Regions from separate parts of the Homo sapiens genome. Here region 2 is linked to region 1. Evidence: fine-mapped expression QTL. A gene starts in region 1. The other region holds a variant in brackets. All regions are shown on one strand. Distances are between the middles of the regions. Region 1 holds the start of LINC02218 (long intergenic non-protein coding RNA 2218). Region 2 overlaps LINC02218 (long intergenic non-protein coding RNA 2218).

What was found. PIP is the estimated chance that this variant, and not a neighbour inherited with it, causes the effect. A credible set is the group of variants that fine-mapping cannot tell apart.
Region 2: its variant is the best candidate, but not a certain one, in a credible set for the expression of LINC02218 in whole blood (TOPMed, PIP 0.61).

The regions. Positions count from the first base shown.
Region 1 is chr5:17,442,337-17,446,736 of GRCh38, reverse strand. LINC02218 (long intergenic non-protein coding RNA 2218) reads right to left here and starts at 2,727. Exons shown (of 3, transcript NR_134270.1): 1 at 2,503-2,727.
Region 2 is chr5:17,472,844-17,477,243 of GRCh38, reverse strand. All of the region lies in intron 1 of LINC02218 (long intergenic non-protein coding RNA 2218), which reads right to left. Among named protein-coding and RNA genes, the nearest start is that of H3Y2, 17 kb to the left of the region's middle. The variant G/T (reference allele first, on the strand shown) is at 2,230.

The DNA of each region.
Region 1 (4,400 bases):
TACATTCATCAGCCTCCTCAGCTCTCCACATCTCTCCATCAGTACAATGTCACCTCCCTCCCCCGTGTCCACCTCCAACTCCTGGCTTCGTATTTTATCTGGCCTATTCCTATTCATCCTTACTCGTACCGCTTTCTTAGAAAGGGGCTATCCAGACTTCTAAGCTAGATGATGTTCTTCTGTTAAGCCACCTTGTAAGTTCTTTGTGCTTTTCTTAGCTATTATTCAAGCACAACAATGATCATATTGCAATTAATGTCATTGTGGATTTGAACATGGAAGGTCTATTTTATCCTAGATTGTAAATTGGTTAAGAGCAGAGATCATGACTGTTTTACTCTCAATTACATATGTCAACTAACACCATGCCTGGCACATAGAAGGCACTCTAGGAATATATGTGGAGTCACACACACACATACACATACTTATGCATACACACTCATACACTTACCCATGAAGATTTCTTCCAGTAAATGGGTATCTGTATTATGCAAGCAACATGAAATCAGAAAGAACATTTTGGGGTTTTTGCTGCCTAACACCAAAACTAATTGCAGCCACTCTTCAAAAAAATGCAATAACTTTATAAACAGCCACATCCTGATTCTTACGGTTGAAAGCTCTCCATTCTCTGCTGAATATTCATCCGTTGAGAGGGACACTAGCCTAGAAGCTCAGCACTTTCTGAAAAGAGAAGCAGCAGGAATAGAAGATGTGTGGAGAGGAAAGAAAGTCAAAGGCAGGCTCCTGCAATGCAAAGGTGCCAGGAACAACGGTGCAATCCCAGGCTGTGTAACACAGGATGGAGGAGGGAGATCTCACTTTTATTGTAAATAGCAGAATTCTTTAAAGGTAGCTACATTAGCAATCAGATCTCATAGATGCTGGAAACACAAACACCTCCTTTCTCATTAAGGGTAGGGGGATCCAGCATAATTTCTCTGGACCAGGAAGATGGAGGAGTCTTACTTCTCTTGCCTTCCAACTGCATCCCCCACTCAATCCTAGATTGCACAAGGAAGTCAACACTACCTCCCCCAACAAGCTCCAAATCCCTCTCTTCACAGCATTGTCAATTGAATCTCTTCATCCAATCTTGGAAACAGTCTGGAAAAAGAAGCAGAGGAGAGAAGAAAGGGGAAAAGTTCAAAAGTACTTTAAACTCTGCCAAAAAAAATCAATTAGTACCAATATACACAGAGAAATGAATGACAGAAGTCATCGCAGCAAGGTATTTCCTCATGACTCCTTCAACTGGCCAGGGCCAAACCAAGGTGTGCAAATAATCTGAGCAACTGTACACTTTGGCACACCTTTGCTATGTATACATACCTTCAATATGTATTTACAGAAGCTGGAAATTGCACAGGGCAGGACCAGGAAAGAACGGGCAGAAATGTTCAACTGCATGGCCAATGTCCTGAGCTTTAGCCCCAGAGTTGTGTGTCCTACTCTGAAGCCCTACAAGTCATAGGACCCATTCACCCCAGAGCCAGTGCAGCCTATTTCTTTGAGATCTCAGTCCCATCTCTCTAATGGTATCAAAGAACCCTCCATTTACATTTAGTGCTCTCTTTGAAAGGAGCCATGATAGACTTTAATCCAAATTTACAAAAAGAAAAACTGGATTCCAAAGAACGATATAATTAGCATAAATACTGGGACTACACACTGCCACATAATAAAACAGAAAGCATCAAAATATATAATTGTGTATAGCACCTATACACTAGCATAGGTCAAACAGCTGAATGATTAAAGGAGTTTTGTTTTGTTTTGTTTTAATCAGTCAACTAGGAACTTCTTAATGCAGTCACTTTGGCATGATACAAACAAAATCTTTCAAACTACAACACATCTTAGAAACAGCAAATACTACTGCTGTTCACGTAGCAAGGAAGGTTACAAGTAAATCTCCCAATATCTCAGGTGTAAAGAAGTGTTCTAACAAGGTCCATTTGTATTAAATCAAATCACCAGACTAAGGCATCTATTTTGCACCACTTACTCAGAGCAACAGACAAAAAGACAGGCCTTTGGGTTTATTTATATAAACATTCTTCCACAGGTAGTCACAGAGGAGGAAGGAGTACAATGTAATTTGATGGTGGATGAATTTGCACAAAAAGGAGACTAAAAAAGAAAGATTATTGTGACCCAACACTCACTCTTTACTTTTTAAAGTTGTGGGGAAAAGAAATGGCAAAGCTTTCTATTTCTGTAAGCTTTTGTTGTAAAGAATTGAATAAAAAATAGCAATACCTAATCATCTCTAAATTACTTCAACTAAAAACACCACTAAAGACCTTATAATCTTTTTTTAAAAAATTCATTCTCATAATTTCTTCCTTGGCCCTGAAAACGATGGTTTAAAAATAGCTTGATTTGCATCTTATTCTTTTACTGCCTTTCTACAAATACATTTTGAAATGCTTGCTTACGGAAAAGCTGTTGCCTGCTTAGCTTTCATCATGTATGAGATCACACTATTTCGCTCACCTGGAACTGTCGTGTTCTCTGTTCCCAGCAACGGTCCGATAAGGAGCATCCTTGCTAAATGATATGTTTAAAGTATGTATAGCTACGTGTATTTTCAAATGCATAACCAATTTCTTAAAAGAGATGGTAACTCATGCCAGAAGCAAGGAAAAGATTGAAAGGCAGGCCTGGAAACAGAGCTGGCCCAGTAGCAGCTCCAAATATGTCAAAATGCTAGTGTTATTTAAGACACCGATACAATATCCCTGATGATGAAACAGGAAACGTTCCCTTGCGCCACCCGCAGGGTGTGCAACAGGAGGAGTGGCTCGCTTCTTCCGTGCCCCACTGCTCAAACCTCTAGGGGAGCATGCGGACGGCTGGGTTGTGGGGCTCCAACCCAAGAGCAGTGTCTAGGGGTGAATGTTTACAGCTGAAGCCCCAGTGGGCACACGTGTGTTACAGGGTGCTCTTTTAGTTTTGCCATCTGTAGGCGACTTGTGTTAGTCAGCTCAATTAGACCCCCTGGCTTATCTCAAGGACAGAGGACTTTCTGTATCCCAGGGTCCTTGCCTTGGTGTACCGGAAGAATCAGATCACACGTGGGCTTGGAGAATGAGTTCAAGGTTTTATTGAGAGGAAGTAGCTGTGAGCAGACAGGGGAGACAGAAGGGAGATGGAGTGGGAAGGTGTAGTTTCCTGGAGTCAGGCCACCTAGCGGCCTGGCTCTCCTCCAACCACGCAGCCAAACTCCATGTCCTTCCGCCAGTCGATGGCCTGCCAGGGTCTGCCTGTCGGCGTGCTCTTGTTGACGTCCTCTGGACGTCCAGCCGCTTGTGTGAGTGCCCACTAGTGTTTCGGGGTTTTTATAGGCACAGGATGGGGGCGTGGTGGGCCAGGGTGGTCTTGGGAAATGCAACATTTGGGCGCAAAGGCAGGAGTGCCTGCCCTTACCTAGGTCTGTGGGCACAGGCACCGGGGTGAAGCCCTCGCCAGAGACCTGCTTTCTCCTCCCAGCACTTCCCTGCCCCCCTCCCTTATCAATAACATCTGCATTTGTAGCTGGGTAACCAGGGTATTCTTCATACAGCTGCAAGTATCTGGCTAATATATTGATAGGGTTTGGATCTGTGTCCAGGCCCAAATCTCACGTTGAATTGTAATCCCAGTGTTGGGGGTAGGGCCTGGTGAGAGGTGATTGGATCATGGAGGAGGATTTCTCATGAATGGTTTAGGACCATCCCTTTGGTGCTGACGGCAAGACAGTGAGTGAATTCTCAAGAGAGAGTTCTGGTTGTTTAAGAGTGTGTGGCACCTTGCTCGCTCTCTCTTTCTTGCTCCTGCTTCAGTCACATGAGGTGCCTGCTCTCATTTCACCTTCCACCATGAGTCAAAGTTCCCTGAAGCCTCCACAGAAGTAGACCCAATATGTTTCCTGTACAGCCTGCAGAACCGTGAGCCAATTAAAGCTCCTTTCTTATAAATTACACAGTCTCAGGTATTTCTTTATAGCAATGCCAGAACAGCCTAATACATACATTATGTCTTCAAGTGGGGGTGAAGACATGCTGAACATTTACTTCTTGAAATATCCACTATATGATAGTCAGGGTGTTGTATGTTTAAAGCATGTATGTGTATAGCTTACGTTATTAAAAATTATTGTTTTAGAATAGAAAAAGGAAGAGTGATAAAATATTAGGCTGAACCATATGAAATTGCTGATATTTTATAACTTTTAGTCAACAAAATTCTCAAATGAGAGCTTTGGGTCCAATAAGTTTGCTTTGCCCCAGGCAACTTGCCCCACTAGTGTAATTCGGGGTCAAGCCATGTGCAAGACTATCAGACAGTTTGCACATCCAAGCATGACCACTCCATGCTCTATTATGCTAAGACAGTCTCTGTAACTTTTCTGC
Region 2 (4,400 bases), 31 kb before region 1:
GACAGTGATTGGAAATAAACTGAAGCTCGGCCTGGTGATGGGTATCAGAGGAAAGCAAGAGCGCCTTAGCAACATAATTAACAAAGGCTCTAATCTAGTCTTGAGCAAGCATATTTATTAACAAGCTAAATATAGATAGATACTAGTACACAGTAATAACATCAAACATATTAATATGTATATGCTAACATATTGAAATTTATGTACATATACATGTATATCTATCTTTTAGCCATTTTCTCCTTATTGTCTTTATCCCATAGCATTTAAATACTGCCAAATATTATATATTACATGTATATACTACTATTTCATATATATTAGTATACAATACTATTTTATGTAATATATTTAATATTTTATAAAATTGTATATAAATTATCTTATACAATATATGATTGTGTATGTAGTACATGTGGCTTTTTTTTTGAGACAGAGTCTTGCTCTGTCATACAATATATGATTGTGTATGTTAATACATGTGGCTTTTTTTTTTTTTGAGACAGAGTCTCACTCTGTCATACAATATGTGATTGTGTATGTAATACATGTAGCTTTTTTTTTTTTTTTTTTGAGACAGGGTCTTGCTCTGTCACCCAGTCTGGAGTGCAAGGGCGCGATCTCAACTCACTGCAACCTCCACCTCCCAGGTTCAAGCAATTCTCCTGCCTCAACCTCCTGAGTAGCTGGGACTACAGGCACATGCTGCCATGCCTGGCTAATTTTTTGCATTTTAGTAGAGACAGAGTTTGTGTGCCCAGGCTGGTCGGGAACTCCTGAGCTCAGGCAATCTGCCTGCCTTGGCCTCCCAAAGTGCTGGGATTACAGGTGTGACCCACTGCGTCCGGCCAATACGTGTGTATTTTATACTATGGAGGGACCTCATGGGTGCACTGAAGGAAGCATTTAGACCAGTGAATTTTTTTTAACCTTTATCTTAGGTTTGGGGTACAAGTGAAGGTTTGTTAAACAGGTAAAAACGTGTCATGGGGGTTTGTGGTACATAGTATTTCATTACCTGGGTACTAAGCCCAGTACCCAATAGTTATCTTTTCTGCTCCTCTTCCTCCTCCCACCCTCCACCCACAGGTAGGCCCCAGTGTCTGTTGTTTCCTTCTCTGTTTCTTGGTTTCTCTTTTTTACAAGACACAGTTTTACTCTGTCACCCAGGCTAGAGTGCAGTGACACGATCTTGGCTCACTGCAACCACCTCCCAGGTTCAAGTGATTCTTGCACCTCAGTCTCCTGAATAGCTGGGATTACAGGCATGCACCACCAGCCTGGCTACTTGTTGTATTTTTAGTAGAGATGGGGTTTCACACCATGTCGGCCAAGCTGGTCTCAAACTCCTGACCTCAAGTGATTCACCCGTCTTGGCCTCCCAAAGTGCTGGGATTACAGGTGTGAACCACCATGCCAGGCCATTGTTTCCTTCTTTGTGTTCACAAGTTCTCATCATTTAGCTCCCACGTATAAGTGACAACATGCAGTAGTTGGTTTCCTGTTCTTATTTTAGTTTGCTAAGGATAATGGACTCCAGCTCCACCCATGTTCTCTCAAAAGACATGATCTCATTTTTTATGGCTGCATAGAATTCCATGGTGTATATATACCATATTTTCTTTATTTAATCTGTCATTGATGGGCATTTAGGTTATTTCCTGTCTTTGCTATTGTGAATAGTGCTGCAATGAACATTTGTGTGCATGTATCTTTATGGTAGAATTATTTTTATTTCTCTGGGTATATAAGCAGTAATAGGATTGCTGGGTCAAATGGTAGTTCTGCTTTCAGCTCTTTGAGGAATCACCATACTGCTTTCCACAATGGTTAAACTAATTTACACTCCCACCAACAGTGTACACATGTTCCTTTTTCTCCACAACCTTGCCAGCATCTGTTATTTTTTTACTTTTTCATAATAGCCATTCTGACTAGTGTGGGATAGTACCTCATTGTGGTTTTGATTTGCATTTCTTTGATGATCAGTGATATTGAACTTCTATTCATATTCTTGTTGGCTGCATGTAGGTCTTCTTTTGAGAAGTGTATGTTCATGTCCTTTGCCCACTTTTTCATGTGGTTGTTAGTTTTTCTCCTGTAAATTTGTTTAAGTTCCTTATAGATGCTGGATACTAGACCTTTGTCAGATGCATAGTTTGCAAGTATTTTCTCCCATTCTGTAGGTTGGCTATTTACTCTGTTTATAGCTTCCTTTTCTGTGCAGAA[G/T]TTCTTAAGTTTAATTAGATCTCACTTGTCAATTTTTGCTTTTAGTTGCAATGGCTTTTGGTGTCTTTGTCATGAAATCTTTGCCTGTTCTTATGCCCAGGATAGTATTGCCTAGGTTGTCTTCTAGGGTTTTGATAGTTTTGAGTTTTACATTTAAGTCTTTAATCCATCTTGAGTTGATTTTTGCATATGGTCTAAGGAAAAGGTCTAGCTTCAATCTTCTGCATATGGCTAGCCAGTTATCTCAGCACCTTTTATTTAACAGTGAGTCTTTTCCCCATTTCTTGTTTTTGTCAGCTTTGTCAAAGATCAGATGGTCATAGATGTGCAGCCTTATTTCTGGGCTCTCTATTCTGTTCCACTTGTCTATATGCCTGTTTTTATACCAGTACCGTGCTGTTTTGCTTACTGTAGCCTTTGTAGTATAGTTTGAAGCTGGGTAACATGATGCTTCCAGCTTTGTTCTTTTTTCTTATGACTGCCTTGGCTATTCAGGCTCCTTTTTGGTTCCATATAAATTTTAAAATAGTTTTTTCTAGTTCTGTGAAGAATGTCTTTGGTAGTTTGATACAGATAGCACTGAATCTGTAAATTGCTTTGGAGAGTATAGCCATTTTAATGATATTGATTCTTTTTATCCATGAGCATGGGATGTTTTTCCATTTGTTTGTGTCTTCTCTGATTTCTTTGAGCAGTGTTTTGTAATTCTCTTTATAATTTGTAATTGAACAATATTTTGCCAATTCTTTCACCTCCCTGGTTAGCTATACTCCTGTGTATTTTATTCTTTTTGTGGTAATTGTGAATGGGATTGTCTTTCTGATTTGGCTCGAGATTTGGCTGTTGTTGGTATATAGGAAAGCTCAGGATTTTTGTACATTGATTTTTGTATCCTGAGACTTTGCTGAACTTATTTATCAGCTGGAGGAGCTTTTGGGCCAGGACTATGAGGTTTTCTAGATATGGAATCATGTCATCTACAAACAGAGATATTTTGACATCCTCTCTTCCTTCTTGGATGCCCTTTATTTCTTTCTCTTTCCTGATTGCTCTGACTAGGACTTCCAAATTTACATTGAATAGGAGTGGTGAGAGAGGGCATCCTAGTCTTGTGCTGGTTTTCCAGGGGAATGCTTCCAGCTTTTGCCCATTCAGTATAATGTTGGCTGTTGGTCTGTCACAGATAACTCATTATTTTGAGGTATGTTCTTTCACTACCTAGTTTACTGAGAGTTTTTAACATGAAGGAGTGTTGAATTTTATCAAAATCCTTTTCTACATCTATTGACATAATCATGTGGTTTTTGTCTTTAGTTCTGTTTATGTGATGAATCACATGTATTAATTTGCATATGTTGAACCAGACTTGCATCCTGGAGATGAAGCCTACTTGATCGTGGTGGATAAGCTTTTTGATGTGCTGCTGGATTTGATTTGCCAGTATTTTATTGAGGATTTTTGCATCCGTGTTCATTAAGGATATTGGCCTGAAGTTTTCTTTTTTTGTTGTGTCTCTTCCAGTTTTTGGTATGAACATCATGCTGGCCTCATAGAATGAGTTGGGGAGGAGTCCCTCCTCCTCGATTTTTTAGAATGGTTTCTGTAGGAACGGTACCAGCTCTTCTTTGTACATTTGGTAGAATTCAGCTGTGAATCTGTCTGGTCCTGGTCTTTTTTTTTTTTTTTTTTTTTTTTTGGTTAGTAGGTTATTTATTACTGATTCAATTTCAGAGCCCGTTATTAGTCTGATCAGGGAATGAATTTCTTTCTGGCTCAGTCTTGAGAGAGTGAATGTGTTTAGGAATTTATCCATCTCTTTTAAGTTTTCCAGTTTTTGTATTTTATATGTAATTCTATATTATATGTATAGGATACTAAGGAGGGACCTGATAGAAACACTGAAGGAAGCATTCTAACCAACAGATTTCAAAAAAAAAATTTTTTTTAGACAGGGTCTCATTCTGTCCTCCAGGATGACTGCAGTGCTGCAATTATAGCTCACTGCAGCCTCAAACTCCCTGGTCAAGCAATATTCCCACCTCAGCCTCCCAAGTAGCTGGGACTATAGGCATGCACTACCATGCCTGGCTAATTTTTTTTTATTTTTTTGTAGAGGCCGGGATCTTGTTATGTTGCCCAGGCTGGTCTTGAACTCTTGAACTCAAGCAATC